2 separate regions of the Homo sapiens genome follow, and region 1 is linked to region 2. The links come from fine-mapping of genetic effects on gene expression. A gene starts in region 2. The other region holds a variant in brackets. All regions are shown on one strand. Distances are from middle to middle. Region 1 overlaps SEC24C (SEC24 homolog C, COPII component). Region 2 holds the start of CAMK2G (calcium/calmodulin dependent protein kinase II gamma).

What was found. PIP is the estimated chance that this variant, and not a neighbour inherited with it, causes the effect.
Region 1: its variant is the best candidate, but not a certain one, in a credible set for the expression of CAMK2G in whole blood (TOPMed, PIP 0.69).

What each region holds. Positions count from the first base shown.
Region 1 is chr10:73,754,021-73,762,345 of GRCh38, reverse strand. It overlaps SEC24C (SEC24 homolog C, COPII component), which reads right to left. Exons shown (of 23, transcript NM_198597.3): 4 at 2,552-2,724; 5 at 1,960-2,328; 6 at 1,497-1,633. Among named protein-coding and RNA genes, the nearest start is that of SEC24C, 14 kb to the right of the region's middle. RefSeq lists an enhancer at 2,472-2,571. The variant A/G (reference allele first, on the strand shown) is at 3,411.
Region 2 is chr10:73,870,738-73,879,062 of GRCh38, reverse strand. It overlaps CAMK2G (calcium/calmodulin dependent protein kinase II gamma), which reads left to right and starts at 4,508. Exons shown (of 23, transcript NM_001367534.1): 1 at 4,508-4,666; 2 at 5,980-6,074. The coding sequence starts at 4,602. RefSeq lists an enhancer at 3,786-3,895 and silencers at 4,116-4,395, 4,406-4,565, 4,626-4,795, 5,056-5,115.

The DNA of each region.
Region 1 (8,325 bases), 120 kb after region 2:
GTGACTTGAGGCATGCATATCCTTTTATCTTGTATAAGTGAGTATCTAGAAGGGCTAGGCTAAAGGAAGAGAATGGGGAGGAATGGACATGGTAGATGAGGTGAAGATGAGGTCACAGGCATGCATGGATGGCACTAACACAGGAATGACATGCACAAACACCCACCCCCTGCACTTACTGGACTAGGAATGGCATCGGGGTCTATTCTGTGCCTGGTTTTCTGCTGAGGAGGCAGCTCACTGAGTTGCTTTTAGTGTTTTAATAATAAATGCAGCAGGGGAATACAAGGAGGGAGACAAAAGAACAAGAGGCAGATGTTACTTCTCTCAACCCTGTTGAGTTAGACATGAACAGCTGGAGCCCAGCTCATATTGCTGAAATCAAGCCCCCTCTAGATATGAAATTCCAAGTCTTTCTGGCCCAACACAGAGGCTTTAATGGCTCAGACTATGATGTAGAAAGATAAGGAAAGGGGCAAACAGGAGGCAAGCAGGAGTTACACAGGGAGGGGCTGAGGCTGAATGGAAGAAACCTTAAGGAAGAAGAAGAGGAGTGTTCCCCCTAAAAGGCCAAACCTCCCATTCTAAGGACTATCTTATGCTGAAAGAAGCCTCCCTTCATGTCCAACCAGACTCTCCTTCTCACTGAAGGAGGGGGAAGGAAGGAGAGGCTGCTTAATCCTCTTGAGTTCTCCTTGGCCAACAGGCTCCCTCACTGTGTTGGTTACCCAAAGGAGGAAGAGGGACGAGAACAGAATGGAATATGACAATGGCTAAGCATGGCAAGGTAACTGACATAGCAAATGTTACAGGTGGAACTATAAAGTGGCCCCTACTTGGCAGTACAGTCCTAGTCTCTATTCTGAGTCTGATAAGGAGGGCCTGAGGATTCTGATGGCTCCAAGGGTGCAATTCACCCTCTTCCTGAAAAAAGCAGCTCTCCAGTGGGACTTTACATACACACTGCCCTCATAAACTGTCGTTCACTCTTCCCCATCCACACAGCAGAAGCCTACCAAACAAAAGTACTGGGGACTTCCTCCTAAAACTGTCCAAGTAAGAGCAGAGAAACCAGTGAGGCTTTCCTTCTCTTAACATCTAACATCAGAGAATTCCCACCTGCTCTACCCATTAGGAAGAATGCCATCCTTCTAGATCTAAGGGGACAAGACCCAGTCACTGCTCCACAGAAGGACAAAGGCTACTATACTATGTATGTACAGTAGTGACAGAGTGCAGCCCTCAGACATCTACTGGTGCTGCTGCTCACTCTTGGTTTCCCTTCCTTCTCTGCCCAGCTATAGAGTAAAACAGCCCCCCAAAAGACTCCTAGAACCTCAAGTTCCAGTTCAGAATCAAATTATATGTAAGTTCTCCAAGAAGATGAACAAAAAGGGAAAATTATCAGAAAATGCTAGGCAAACATTTCATCTAGATTGACCTGCCTATCTGGCAGACACAAACCCTTCCTCAGGACCATGAAAGTTTCTACTTACAGGGCTTGGGATGGCATCAGGGTCCAGGCGCTTAGGAGGCAGTGGCTGAGGAGGCCCAGGCTGACTGCCAAAGGTGGGTGCTGCTGGGTAGGGGCCTCCATAATTAGACTGAGGGCCCCGGGCTGGTCCGAAGGAACCTGAGACAAGGACACAAGGTTGATGAACTCAAAATCCCATCCCTATCTCTTCTTAAGGCCTCAGGAAAATGACTAGACTCCTAAAAACATAGAATTATGAGGCACACTAATGCCTGGCAAAGACATTCAGAAAAATACCATGTTATCAGAACGACAAGAAAAAATAATGTCTTACAAACCCCATATCCTAGGAATAATACCCTGAAGCTACCCATCTAATTCACCACTTAGCAAGTAATACTAAAAACAAACAAATAAAAAACATCAAAAACCACCTGAGTAGCTGAAGCCTCTAGCTTCTAAGACAGACCTTGGGAAAGACTCACCATTTTGTTGGGGCTGATAGCCTGGCTGCTGCGGGGAGTGCATAGGTGGCAGTGGTCCCAGGGGCCCAGTCATCTGGGTGCCAGGGGGCAGAGCTTGAGGAGGTGAAGACACATGGTTGGGCTGGCTCACTGAGGGCCCTCCAAAACTCTGTCCAGGCAGGAGTGGACCAGTCATCGAAGGCAGCCGAGGACCCCCTGAAGCTGGGGGTGTGAAGCTGGAGGCCTGTGATGGGGCAGATCGCTGGGGAGTCTGGATCCCAGGATGACCTTGGGCCTGGCTAAGGGGAGGAGCCTGGCCCTGAGGATAGGAGCCATACAGACCAGAGTTAGGGAAACTTCCTGAGGCTGAAGCCAGCGATGTTGGTGGGCCTGAGAAGTAGAATAAAGGTAGAGTCAAAAGCCCAGTCATTCTGCCTCCTTGTTCGGTATATCACTTCCCTTTCCACACAAGAGGGGCAAATATGACTGTCCCATCTTCTGAGGCTCAGAGGCACAGGAAATACAAGGGAAATAAAAGAGATTCAGGTATAACCCCAGAGTCTGATGCCTCTGAACAGGGGACAGTAACATTCCTGTGTTCACAGCCACTCACCAAAGCCCAGCCCTGAAGAAGGAGGGGCTGGGGCCACAGCACCGCTGATCTGCATTCCAGACAGCTGCGTAGCCACCTGTGCACTTGTCGGGGGAGGGCCATAGGGCTGAAGCACAGGTGGCTGGTTGCCCACAGGGGCCAATGGGGACCCAAATGGCTGAGACCCAGGCAGCCTGTGAAAAGAAAGCAAGCAGAGGTGACTAGTGGGGCCAGGACACCCTTTGAAGTCTACAGAAGTGTCACATCATACAGGAAGCTACATTGTTTTGTGACATCTTACTCTCACACCCTGAGTTCTTTTATGGCTTCATACTTTTGTATATTTGTGGGTAAATTATATTCCTGATTATTCATGGCAAATCTTGTTTTCCATTAAGCTCACTCCACAAACATAAACCAAGCACCTTCAGGTCAAGTACTATTTACTCTGCTAACTAAATTACTGCTTCCTCTGCTTCAATTCTTTGACAAACCTCTTCAGTTTTGTAATCTGAAGCCCTGAAAGCACTGAAAGGGAAGGCACGCATAAGCATGCATGAACCTTAATAAATATGAAATCAAACAAATGCAGATTGATTGTCCAGCTTTTTTTTTTTTTTGAGACAGGGTCTCACTCTGCCACCCAGGCTGAAGTGCAGTGGTGTGATCACAGCTCATTGCAGCCTCAACTTTCCAGGCTCAGCTGATCTTCCCACCTCAGCCTCTCAAGTAGCTGAAACGAAAGTCACACGCCACCATGCGTGGCTAGTTTTCGCATTTTTTATAGATACGGAGTCTCGCCATGTTGCCTAGGCTGGTCTCAAACTCCTGAGCTCAACGAATCTGCCCGCCTCAGTCTACCACAGTGTCTTTCCAATAT[A/G]CTTTCCATTCAGTGTCTCCCTCTCTGATTATTCCCATCAGCACAAAAACATACAAACATCTCACACACACACACACACACACAAAAACCAACTATAGTGGAAACATCCCAAATGTCTATCAGCAGAAGAATGGATAAACAAAATGTGGCATGTAGCTACACAATGAAAAACCACTTAACCACAAAAAGGAATGGAGTACTAATATACACTACAACATAGTTGAACTTTGAAAATATTATGCTAAATTAAAGAAGTCAGTTATAAAATATCACATAGTATATGATTCTATTCTAATGAAAAGTCCAGAATAGGGAAATCTTTAGAGACAGAAAGTAGATCAGGAGTTGCTTAAGGTTGGAAGAATAGGGGAATGGGGGAATAGCTAAACAGGGGTAGTTAAAGAATGCAGTATTTCTTCTTCAGATGATGAAAATGTTCTAAAACTGACTGTAGTGATATCTGTCAATATACTAAATTGTGACAGCACATATCTGTCAATATATTAAAAACCACTAAATATACAAAAACACTTTAAACAGACGAATTGCACAGTATATGAATTATATCTCAAAAAACTTTTTAAAAATCCAACCAAATTACCTCACAGCCCCCTCAAACTTTTGCTCCCCTTTTAGCTAAACATTACAAAAGAATAGGTCTATACTCTGTCTCTACTTTTTTTTTTCTTTTCTTTTCTTTTGAGACAGAGTCTCACTCTGTCGCCCAGGCTGGAGTGCAGTGGTGCGATCTTGGCCCATCACAACCTCCACCTCCTGGGTTCAAGCAATTCTCCTGCCTTAGCCTCCCGAGTAGCTGGGACTACAGGTGCCCACCATCATGCCTGGCTAATTTTTGTATTTTTAGTAGAGACGGGGTTTCACTATGTTGGCCGGGCTGGTCTCGGAACTCCTGACCTCGTGATTCGCCCGCCTCAACCTCCCAAAGTGCTGGGATTACAGGCGTGAGCCACCGTGCCCAGCCTTACGTTTTTTTTTTTTTTTTTTTTTTTTTTTTGAGACAGGGTCTCGCTCTGTCACCCAGGCTGGAGTACAATGGCACTCACTATCTGTGGCTCACTGCAGCCTTGACCTCCTGGGCTCAAGCAATCCTCCCCCTAAGCCTCCCCTCCCAAGTATCTGAGACCACAGGCACACACCACCACACCTAGCTAATTTTTTTTATTTTTTGTAGAGACAGGGTCTTGCTATGCTGCCCAGGATAGTCTTGAACTCCTACCCCGGCTTCACAAAGTGCTGGGATTACAAACATGAGCACTGTGCCTGGCCCAACTCTAATCAAAGTGCCTTTCTCCGATAATCCCTTCCAGCCCGGACTGAGGTGTGGTTGTTCTACATTTGTTTCCAGAAGGTACTCCAATAATGACAGTGTCACCCTAGATTGATTTTTTTTTTTTTTTAGTTTTTGAGACAGGGTCTCACTCTGGCACCCAGGCCACAGTGCAGCGAAGCCATCATGGCTCACTGTAGCCTCAACCTCCAGGGCTCTAGCAATCCTCCTGCCTCCACCTCTGCTTCCCAGGCACACCAACAATGCTCAGCTATTTTTTTTTTTTTATAGCGACAGGATCTCCCTATGTTGCCCAGGCTGGTCTAAAACTTCTGGCCTCAAGTGATCCTCCTGTCTCAGCCTCCCAAGGTGTTGAGATTACTACAGGCATGAGCCACTGCACCTGGCCTCTAATTTAAAAAAAAAAAAAATTAGGCCAGGTGCAGTGGCTCATGCCTGTAATCCCAGTACTTTGGGAGGCCGAGACAGATGGATCATTTGAGGTCAGGAGTTCAAGACCAGCCTGACCAACATGGTGAAACTCCATCTCTACTAAAAAAATACAAAAATTAGCCCAGGCGTGGTAGTGCACACCTGTAATCCCAGCTACTCAAGAGGTTCAGACAGGAGATTCACTTGAACCTGGGAGGTGGAGGTTGCAGTGAGCCAAGGTCACACCACTTCACTCCAGCCTGGGTGACAGAGCGAGACTTCATCTCAAAAAAAAAAAAAAAAAAAAAAAAAAAAATTGGCCAGGAACAGTGACTCACACCTGTAATCCCAGAACTTTGGGAGGCCAACACAGGTGAATCACTTGAGGTCAGTTCAAGACCAGCCTGGCCAACATGGTGAAACCCTGTCTCTACTAAAAATACAAAAAATTAGCCTGGCATGGTGGTCATGCCTGGAATCCCAGCTACTTGGGAGGCTGAGGCAGGAGAATCACTTGAACCCAGGAGGCAGAGGCTGCAGTGAGCTGAGATCGTGCTATTGCACTCCAACCTGGGCAATAAGACCAAAACTCTGTCTCAAAAAAAAAAAAATATTACTGAGATGTAATTTCCATACCATTAAATTCACTTCAAGTGAACAATTCAATGATTTTTAGTAAATTTAGTTATGCAACCATCACCAGAATCAAATTTTAAAACATTTTCATCATTCCAAAAAGATGTCATGTCCATTTGCAGTCCCAAGAACTTTTTTTTTCACCCATCCACAGCCAGCCTGAGAGAAACAGCACTCCTTATCTCCCCTTTCCAGCGTGCAGACTTTTTTCCCCTAGTCAGCTTGTTCAATGAAGGTGCAGCCCAGGTCCAGACTTTATAAACAATGTCTCAGTTCCAAAACTACTCTCAGGAAAGCCCAAGGACTCATCTGCCTTCCCCAGTACCTGCTTAAATTTAAGGCCCTGGCTTCTCAAGATGATGAATCCACCCAATCTACAGGCAGCTCCAGAGTCAATTTACCACTCTGATTTTCAGTCCTCACTTGATGGCCAGGCACAGTGGCCCATGCCTGTAATCCCACCACTTTGGGAGGCCAAGGTGGGCGGTTCACCTGAGGCGAGGAGTTTGAGACCAGCCTGGCCAACACGGTGAAACCTCATCTCTACTAAAAATACAAAAATTAGCCGGGCATGGTGGCCCACATCTGTAGTCCCAGCTACTTGGGAGGCTGAGGCAGGGGAATCGCTTGAACCTGGGAGGTAGAGGTTGCAGTGAGCAGAGATCGTGCCACTGCACTCCAGCCTGGGCGACAGAGCAAGACTCTGTATTTAAAAAAAAAAAAAGATTTTCAGTCCTCACTTGGTCTCTAAAACTTAAGAATTTCACATTTTCTTTCAAGCTTAACTTTGCACTTAAAAATTTTTTTTGTTTCTATTTTCTCTCTCCTTTCTAGACTTTGGTAGCAGAGGGTTTTCAGATTATGTCAATCTACCACCCGGTTGAAACTTTTTTTTTTTCCTGAGACGGAGTCTCGCTGTCTGTCGCCCAGGCTGGAGTGCAGTGGCAAGATCTCGGCTCACTGCAAGCTCTGCCTCCTGGGTTCACGCCATTCTCCTGCCTCAGCCCCCCAAGTAGCTGTGACTATAGGAGCCTGCCACCGCGCCCAGCTAATTTTTTGTATTTTTAGTAGAGACGGGGTTTCACCGTGTTAGCCAGGATGGTCTCGATCTCCTGACCTTGTAATCCACCCGCCTCGGCCTCCCAAAGTGCTGGAATTACAGGCATGAGCCACCGCGCCTGGCCTGAAACTCTGACTCACTCCAACTGGGTAGTTTTCTTTATCTCTACACTGAAACTGCCTTTACCAATGACGCCAACCTTGCCAAATTCAATGGTCAATTCTCCATCTTCATCTTACAATTTGGCAGCATCTGACACAACTGATTACTCTCTCACCTTCTTGAAATACTCTCTTCACCTGACTTCAGGACACCACACTCTCCCGGCTTATCTCCCACCTCACTACTGCTCTTTCTCATTGTCTTTTGTTTTTTTTTTGTTTGTTTGAGATGGGGTCTTACTCTGTCATTCAGGTTGGAGTGCAGCGGTGCGATTTCGGCTCACTGCAACCTCCGCCTCTTGGTTTCAAGCCATCCTCCCACCTCAGCCTCCCAAGAAGCTGGGACCACAGGCATGTGCCACCACACCCGGCTAATTTTAGTATTTTGGTAGAGACAGGGTTTCACCATGTTGCCCAGGCTTGTCTCGAACTCCTGAGCTCAAGCAATCTGCCTGCCTCAGCCTCCCAAAGTGCTGGGATTACAGGAGTGAGGCACTGCACCTGGCCCCTCATTGTCTTTTAATGGCGGCTCCTCTTTACTTTTAAATGTTGCTAAGCTCCAAGTCTCAGTCCTCAATTCCATTCTTTAATCTCAATACTCACTTTTTAAATGATTTCATCTAGTCCCACGGCTTTAAATATCTATAGACTGAGGACTCCCAAATTTTTATCTCCAGTCCTAGCATCAGTCTTGAGCTGCAGATTTGTATATGCACCTGCCTACCTAACATCTCTACTTGAATAGAGTTTATATGAGGGACTTGAGCCTTTGTGGATTTTGGTATCTGTTGGTCAGGGGAGGTCCTGGAACCATTCCCCCATGGATACTGAGGAATGACTGTAGTGAGATTTGGGATACATCTTGAAGGTGGAATCAATAGAATTGGATGTGGGTTATACGGCATCATATTTGCATATAACCTCCCATATACTTTTTTTTTCCTGAGACGAAGTCTCACTCTGTCGCCCAGGATGGAGTGCAGTGGCACAATCTTGGCTCACTGCAACCTCTGCCTCCTGGGTTCAAGCGATTCTCCTGCCTCAGCCTCCCAAGTAGCTGAGATTATAGGTGCCCGCCACCACACCCAGCTAATTTTTGTATTTTTAGTAGAGATGGGGTTTCACCATGTTAGCCAGGCTGGTCTCAAACTCCTTACCTCAGGTGATCCACCCACCTTGGCCTCCCAAAGTGCTGGAATTACAGGTATAAGCCACCACACCCAGCCTCCTCCCATGTACTTTAAATCATCTCTAGATTACTTATAATACCTAATACAATGTAAATCAGGGGTGTCCAATCTTTTGGCTTCCCTGGGCTATACTGGAAGAAGTGTCTTG
Region 2 (8,325 bases):
ACTAAAAATAAAAAAAGAAATTAGTAGGACATGGTGGCTTGTGCCTGTAGTCCCAGCTACTCAGGAGACTGAGGTGGGAGGATCACTTGAGCCCAGGAGATAGAAGCTGCAGTGAGCTAGGATCATGCCACTGAACAGTCTAGGCGACATGGTGAGACTTTATCTTAAAAAAAAAAAGAAAAGAAAAAAAAAAATGCTGCACTCATTGACATAATCTGTGGTTTCAGTCTTTTTTTTTTTTTTTTTTTCCAGCTTTTAGACTCAGGAAGGATGGGAAAAAGTAGTGATTTGGAGAAGCCCACTGGTAGGCTTTTTCTGATGTACCTTCCAGGGCAAAGAGGGGCATCCTTCACTCCCTCCCAGTGTGAGGATTGCTTATTTAAATACTGTGTTTACAGTGGCTCATGCCTGTAATCACAGCACTTTGAGAGGCCAAAGCAGGAGGACAGCCTGAGGCCAGGAGTTCAAGACCAGCCTGGGCAACATAGCAAGACCCTCATTTCTACCAAAAAAAATTTAATTAAGCTCGGTATAGTGGCATGGACCTATAGTCCCAGCCATTCAGGAGGCTGAGGCAGGAGAATGGCTTGAGCCCAGGAGTTAGAGGCTGCAGTAAGTTAGGATCACACCACTGCACCACAGCCTGGGTGACAGAGTGAGACACTGTCTCAAAACAAAACAAATGTTGTATTTGCTTTCTCACTCTTTCCTATCTCCATGATCACATCTTCTCTCCAGTTTTAAATGCCGCACCATTAATAATTCTCTCAGAGTTCCTTGGAGAGAGGTCATGATCTCATCACTCCTAATTCTCCAAAACTAATCATAGAATCTCAGAGTTGGAAAGGACCCAGAAGTCCAATGGGTTCCAAACTTCTTTTTAGTCAGGGACTCTTAACTGCAACCAAATCTTATGTGGAACGTCAATATATATATGTTGACTAGCTGTTGCGGCCTGGCCTCGTAACCCCATGGATTCTGCTTAGAATATGGATTGAAAACCCCTCATGGACGTGAGACTTTGCAGGCTTCAAAGAGAAAGATGGTCCCACCCAGTGGGGTGCCTCTGGTGCTTATCAGGGTACTGATATCTTTGTCATTCCCTGTTCTCTGAGCTCTGAGCACAGCCTGAGTGCTGGTGCTGCCCAGGGGACTGGCTGCAACCAGAGCAACCCAGCCCAAAGACCCCAGGAGGTTGCCATAGACACTGAAGTGGAGGGAGCTGGTGAGCTTGTTATTATTTGTGTGTATCTTCCCTCTAATTGCTGTAGGGTAGCTGGAGGTTGTGTGGGCGCTACAGCAGTGGGGATAGAGGAGGGTGTATGTGCGAGGGTGTGTGTTTGTGTGTGCACACAGAAGTGTCTATAGGCTCCAAACCACCACCGTGGATGCGTCAGAGGCTGCGCTGTTGAGAGAAGTAGTGAGGGAGGAAGGGAAAAGTGAAGTAGAGATACAAAGGAAAAAGGAGGCTGGACAAGGTGGCTCATGCCTGTAATCCTAGCACTTTTGGAGGCCAAGACAGGATGATTGCTTGAGTCTACGAGTTTGAGACCAGCCTGGTCAAAATTGTGAGACCTCATCTCTATAAAAAAATGTAAAACTAGCTGAGTGTGGTGGCACATGCCTGTAGTCCTAGCTACTTGGGAGGGTGAAGCTGCAGTGAGCCGTGACAGCACCACTGTACTCCAGCCTGGGGGACAGAGCGAGACCCTGTCTGAGGGGTTAAAAAAAAAAGACGATGGATTGAGTTTTCTTCTAATTGTGTGAATTCTAATTTTCTACTTTATTTGAATGTTTCAAAAAGTAAAAGGCAGTGACAAACCTATGGTAGGGAGTCATATTTGTTGAAAGGCAGCTAGCTCCACTTATATAGTACTATGAGTCACCCCTGAGGCTTCACTCCAATATTTTTCTCATCACTCTTCCTTTTACCTAGAGACACAATGCAAAATGCTTTACGTGGTTACCCCAAAACACCTAGTGTTGAACCCTCCCCTCAGTCGGGATGATGTTCCTCTCACAGCAGGCACATGAGACTGGTCAGGGTTGTAGTCCTGTTTTACATTTGCCCCAGGATACTCCTAGGGGACTCCATGGCAGCCCTCCTCTGTGCTTGTTCTGACCTCTCAGGGTCTCCTCCACTCCACCTTCCATTCATGAATAGAAAGTTTCAAGTATCAGCCTGGAGGTCAGGAAGCAAGTTGCCTTGAGCACTTAGGAAGGGCACATTGATGATCAACTGATATTCAAAGTTGCTTCTGCTTTGGAGATGGATGACAGAAACTCAACACTTACTGGCATCCCCATGTATGCAATCTCATTGCCCTACCCCACACTGGGACTTGGGACCTGGCTCTCACCCAGGTGCTTTGAGATAGGAAGTGGCCTTACTCTCCACTTTACCTCCTGTTGCCCTGGGGAGGGGTAGGGCATGGTGCTCTGGCACTGCTACCCTTTCCCTTGGCCCTCTCTACCCTTCTCCCAAGAGAACTGCTAATGCTTTTCCTTTAGGGCTTCATGCCCTCCCATTCCCTAATCACCCCTACTGGGCAGTCTGGTTCCCAAAGCAGCTCTCAGGGCTGTTGGGTCAGGACAGGAGGGGAGCACTCCTGGAGAGCTCTGCCCCACCCACCCCTCAGGGAGGCAGCTTGGGAGGCTGGGACACCTCTCAGCCCCCTCCTCTGGCAGAGCGAGCCTGCTGGCGAGGGAGACCCGACTCCCAGTGGGCGTCCTGCTGTAATCAAGACTGAGTGGCAGCCTCTGGCTGAGCTCCACCCTGCCCAGTTGGGGCTGGCCTCAGCCTCAGGGGACAGCTGCCCAGGCAGGTCAGGAACCTGCCCAGCCTGTTTGTCCCCCATCAAGACAGTTATGTGCCTCTGTCCCACCAACTTGTGATGGTGGGGACAGGAGAAGGGATGGTATCTCCCTCTGCCATCCCACAAATATTTACTGAGGGTCAGGGGCTGAGTGTACAATGGTGAACAAAAGGTGCAGAGGCCCCGCTTTATTGGAGCCTACAATTCAGCGGGAAGCTAGTTTTTGTATTTTTAGTAGAGACAGGATTTCACCATGTTGGCCAGGCTGGTCTCGAACTCCTGACCTCATGATCCACCCGCCTCAGCCTCCCAAAGTGCTGGGATTACAGGTATGAGCCACCACGCCCGGCCCAGCAAATGTAGTTCTAATTAGGCACCAAGTACTATTCTAAGTGCCTTAGACCATTTAATGCTGACAGGCCTATGAGGTAGGTAATATTATTGTTCCCAGCCGGGCGAGGTGGCTCATGAAGCCACCTCTGTACTACATACATACTTCATTACTTCATGTATGTACTACATACATACTTCATTACTACAACATAATGAAGCCCCGTCTGTACTAAAAATACAAAAAAATTAGCCGAGCGTGGTGGCGCGCGCCCATAATCCCAGCTACTCGGGAGGCTGAGGCAGGAGAATCGCTTGAACCCAGGAGGTGGAGGCTGCAGTGAGCCAAGATCGCACCACTGCACTCCAGCCCGGGCAACAGCGCAAGACTCCGTCTCAAAAAAAAGATTCAGTGACTTACCCCAGGTCACAGAGCTGATCAGTGAGTTGCCTAGAAATCCAATCCAGGCAGTTTGATGCAAGTTCACGCTTAGACAGCTATGAGATAGCTCTACTGCCCCTTATACCAGTCAATGCATCACTACAAAATGTGGTAGGTGCCAGAAAATAAAAGTACGAGGGTGCCTTGCAAGAAAATGGGGATTTCCCCTTTCTTCCACTTTCTCTTCTAGCCCCCACTGCACAAAGCCTTTTCAAGTCTTCCTACTTCACCCCTTTCATTTCTGGCCGGATAGAGAATACTCTTTCATCTCTGCAGTTATGGTGCAGGAAGGCAGAGTCCTACCTGTATCCTTGCCCCTGGCCTGGTCTCCCTGATCAACCCGCGCCTGAAGGGTTTCTTTCTAATAATGGCCCTGGTGCTTGCGCAAGTCTAGACTGTCAGCTCCCAGAGGGAAGGCGGCTGGCAGCTGGCTCTGCGCAGGCTGGGGGCGCCTCCCGGGCGTGCAGCCTGGCACAGGCTCCTTGACCTTGGCTCTCTCCCCACGTGCTAGGAGCCCGGTTGGGGGCTCGGGACCCGCGTGTAGGACCCGTCCAGAGAGGTCAGTGGTCCAGACTCCTACACTCCTAACACATGCACCCTCGCATGCACGTTCCCGAGCCCGCGCGGGGTCCGCCCCGGGACAAGCCCATAAGTCGCGAACCTTCCAGCTCCGTCTGCCCAGACAGGTGGCCCGGAGCGGGGACCCCCTCCCCTCGGCTGCCCCGCGCGCCTGGCCCAGCGAGGGCGGCTCCGGGGCGGGGCGGGGCCGGCGGCGGGAGGCCCCTCCCCGGGGGCGGGCCGGGGGCCGGGCGGGGGGGGGGACTGGCGGGGCCTGGGGGCGGGGCGGGGCGGGCGGCGCGGGGGTGTCCCTCCCTCCCTCGCTCTCCCCGGTAAAGTCTCGCGGTGCTGCCGGGCTCAGCCCCGTCTCCTCCTCTTGCTCCCTCGGCCGGGCGGCGGTGACTGTGCACCGACGTCGGCGCGGGCTGCACCGCCGCGTCCGCCCGCCCGCCAGCATGGCCACCACCGCCACCTGCACCCGTTTCACCGACGACTACCAGCTCTTCGAGGAGCTTGGCAAGTACGGCCCGCCCGCCGCGGTCCCCTGCCTGCCCTGCCGCCCGGGAGCTATGCGGCTTCTCGCCCCGCCCCCCGGCCCTGCACCGGCCGCTGCGGCTCCCCCTCGGCCGCCCCACCCCCGCCTTTCCCGCCCGCCGCCTTCGGTCCCCGCGCCCCCCGCGCACTGCCCCGCATCCCCCTCCGCGCCCTGCAGCAACTGGCGGGGCCGCTGCTCCCCACGCGCCGCCGCGGACACCGCAGACCCCGGACCGCTCCCGGGTGCCCTCCAGCCCCGCCCCTCCGCACCCTTCAGGCGCCCCCCTCCCGACCACCTCCCAACGCTGCCCGGTTGCTCACTCCGCACCCTGAACCCAGGTCCCACGCGCCTCGCACTCAGGACCCTCCCCAGCCCTGCAGCCCTAGCTCTGCTGCGGAGCCCGGGCGTGGGGGGGCTGTTTGGCGCCCGGCCCCGCCCCCCGCGGGTGCCGCTCCAGGCTCCCAGCCCCGCGGCTGGGCAGTGCTGCGGCACCCCCGTCCCCTCCCCCCACCCCTGCAGTGGTCCCGGGAGCCGCGCCGCAGCCTCAGCATCCCCCTCCCCTCCGCACTGAGCTGGCCGCTGCAGCAGCCCCGGCCCCCCACCCCCACCCGCGGCGCCGAGCCCGGCCACTGCAGCCCCCGCCCCGCCCGCCCCCCCAGACGTTTCCAGAGCTCAGAGTGCGAGCTCCCGTTTGACGGGGACGTCAAGGAAAATAGCATGGGAAGGGGAGTTCTTGATGTCTGACTGTGTCCTCTCTTCCCTTGCTGTCAGTTGAGCCGGGATGCAGTGAGATGAAACCGGCTGTGGGGGGGTTTGAGCCTCACTTTGCCCCATGGTTGAGGGAGATTTCTCTTTCAGGGGATGATACCCTCTTTTTAATCTTTCCTTCCCCGACCTTCAACTGTTCCTGCTGAGAGAAGGGCAGGGTCTCTCTGCTCCCTTCTGCCCTGGTTCTCTTGGCCGGGACCGCAGGGCTGTCTGAGATGCAGCAGGTGTGTGTTTTCAGCATCGCCCACCCGCTCCTGATGTGCAGCCTGAGGTGGAGGCTGTTGCCTTGCCCAGGGACTGGATGAGGGGGTGGGAGCGCGGCACGCCACCCACATCTGTTCAGTGTCCTGCGGTGGCCGCGTCCTTTTGCCTCATGTTGGATGGTGGTGGTCACAGCGCCGGTGTGTGTGCATGTACGTGAGTGTGACTAGAGGTCTGGTGGTGGGAGCATCATCGTCCCCAGACTTGAAGTGTGTCTGTGTCACTCTGCCCTGCTCCGTGTCCCAGTTCTTTTCCCCTTCTCCCTCCAGGGGTGCTTTCTCTGTGGTCCGCAGGTGTGTGAAGAAAACCTCCACGCAGGAGTACGCAGCAAAAATCATCAATACCAAGAAGTTGTCTGCCCGGGGTGAGTGTTCCCTGTCTTGACCTCTTCCTGAGGGTGCCTCCAGGGGCCATGGTTTCTTTTGAGGAAGCCCCAGGAATTGGGGGTTGTGCGTTTTAGCACTTGGAGAGGAGTTGGAATTTCAGACTGGTTGGACTTTGTGTCAGGCTGAAGCCAGAAAAGGAGTTGCATGGGGGACTGGAAGCGCCCAGGTACAAAAGAATGAAGGAAGAGATGCAAGTAGCTGCAGTGGCCCCCAAAGGCTCAAGGGAGTTCGGTCTTCAGGGAGGTGGAGGATATGGGGGTAGTGGGTGGTACAGAATGGGGAGCTCTTAATTTGGGGCATTTGGAGCCTCTCCCTTTGGGGCAGTGGTGGCTACTGCAGGCCTTTCCTGGTCCCTGTGCCCCAGTGGTGACTTAGGATGGAAATGCAGTAAGTGAGCAGCTCTGACAAAGCCAGCCTCCCCTGCCCACCAGGCGGCAGAACAGACTCCCAAGGGAAGGGAATCTGTAAACATCAGGGGAGGCTGCTACTGGCGAGGGCTTCTCAGGAACAAATTCTGCCAGATGAACTTGATTGCTTTTTTGATCAAATTACAAAGTTGGTGGTGCAGCAGCAGATGTAGTCTGTCCTGGGTGGAGGGTGATGCCTCATGGTCTAGAAATCCCAAAGGCCCGGTTTGGGCAGGAACTGCACTGCCTCCGAGTCTGAGGAGCATAAAGGCCAAGGCCTTGGGGCCTCACTTGCGAGATCCTCCCAAGTACCTGAGGCTTGGAGGGTCAGGGCCTGTCTTTCACACCTTGAACCTACACTCTCTGAACTTCCTATTGGGTACTTGCCAAACTCACCTCATCTGATAGGTGTAGACCCAGCAATGTGTGAAGTGCTCTGGGAACAGGTCTGGTGAGTACAGAGGTCAGATCTCGGAGGGCTGCAGGGTGCAGCTGGGGGACAAAGGTTGTGAAACTCAGAGAAAGGAATTAGGGCTGGGCAGTAGGATGCCATAAATATATTAGGAGCCAGGACACATGCCCTGGGGAAGACATGGGCTTTGGCCAATAATGACACGGGTTTCTCTGGGATAAGAGACATAATAGATGTCCCAAATGCTTAGAGAAGCTCTACAATTCCACGGGCTTCTGTCGTGTTGGCAGTTGTTCTGGGACCTGTTTAGCAGGGCCGTGTCCACTCCCTGACTGGGGACTCTCTCTCCATCCCTCTAGTAGGGCACTAATTGCTGACTCCCATCCAGCTCCATCTCTTGCTGTTCGTGTACATTGCCTATAAAGTTGGACTTGTTTGTTTTCTTTCTCTCTGGGTACCTTGAGTCTGAGGATGGTTGCCATAGAGATATGTGGGCAGTCAGATACCCTGGAGTGGGGGTGGGGGGGACAACAGGGGCTGGGCTCTCTGGCAGACATCCTCTGGCCAAGGATGGAAGGTGCAGGCAGGAACAATGGCTTGAGGCTGGATACCTCTCTTGCCCACACAGCAGAGCCCTGGTGCATCAGAAACAGGGCTGGCATCTGGTGTCTCCAGTTGATGATGCAATGCTTTGCTCTCTTCATCTCACCAGTGTCCTCTGACCCATGGGTAAGAGAAGGAGAGATGGCTGGGAGCCGAATTCTGGGATGTGAGGATAGGTGATGTGGTGACTTCCTGCAGCTGCCTGACTGGGGCTTTCATTTCCTACTCCTTCCCTACCTGCGTAAATTTCCATGACCTGTGTGATAGCCTCCCTTTCCCTTCCTCACCTCCTTTTAACCTTGTCCCATCTTTCCCAATGGATATCTTTCCCTGGCCAAACTGGATGAGACTTGATTTCTCGTTGATTTTTTTTTTTTTCCCCTCAAGAAGAGGATTCTTGTGTAAAAGTATATGCTTCAGACAGCAACTCCCCCTCTCCCAAGATGGATATGCCAAGACTGGGCTCTGTTGTGTGGCCTCATGTGCCAGGTTGACTTTGGGACAGAGGCACAGATGATAGGCACAGATGCCAGCCAGAGGGGTCAGAATGTGTAAGTGCCAGCCAGTACTGTGTGGAGGTGGGAAAGTGGAAAGGGGCTGTCTTGGAGATGGAGGGAACAAGGTGGGGCTGGACTATAGGTGTGGGCATGGGAGATGTGAACTCCTGGAGAGATCTGGGCCAGGGTAGCCATGGGCTGGTTCCCATGGGGTTAGGGAGTGAGGGCCATGGCTTCCCTGCAGACTCTCAGTTTACACTATATATTTTATAAAGGTGCAGCCACTGGAGCTGGGTTTCACTCATCGCTG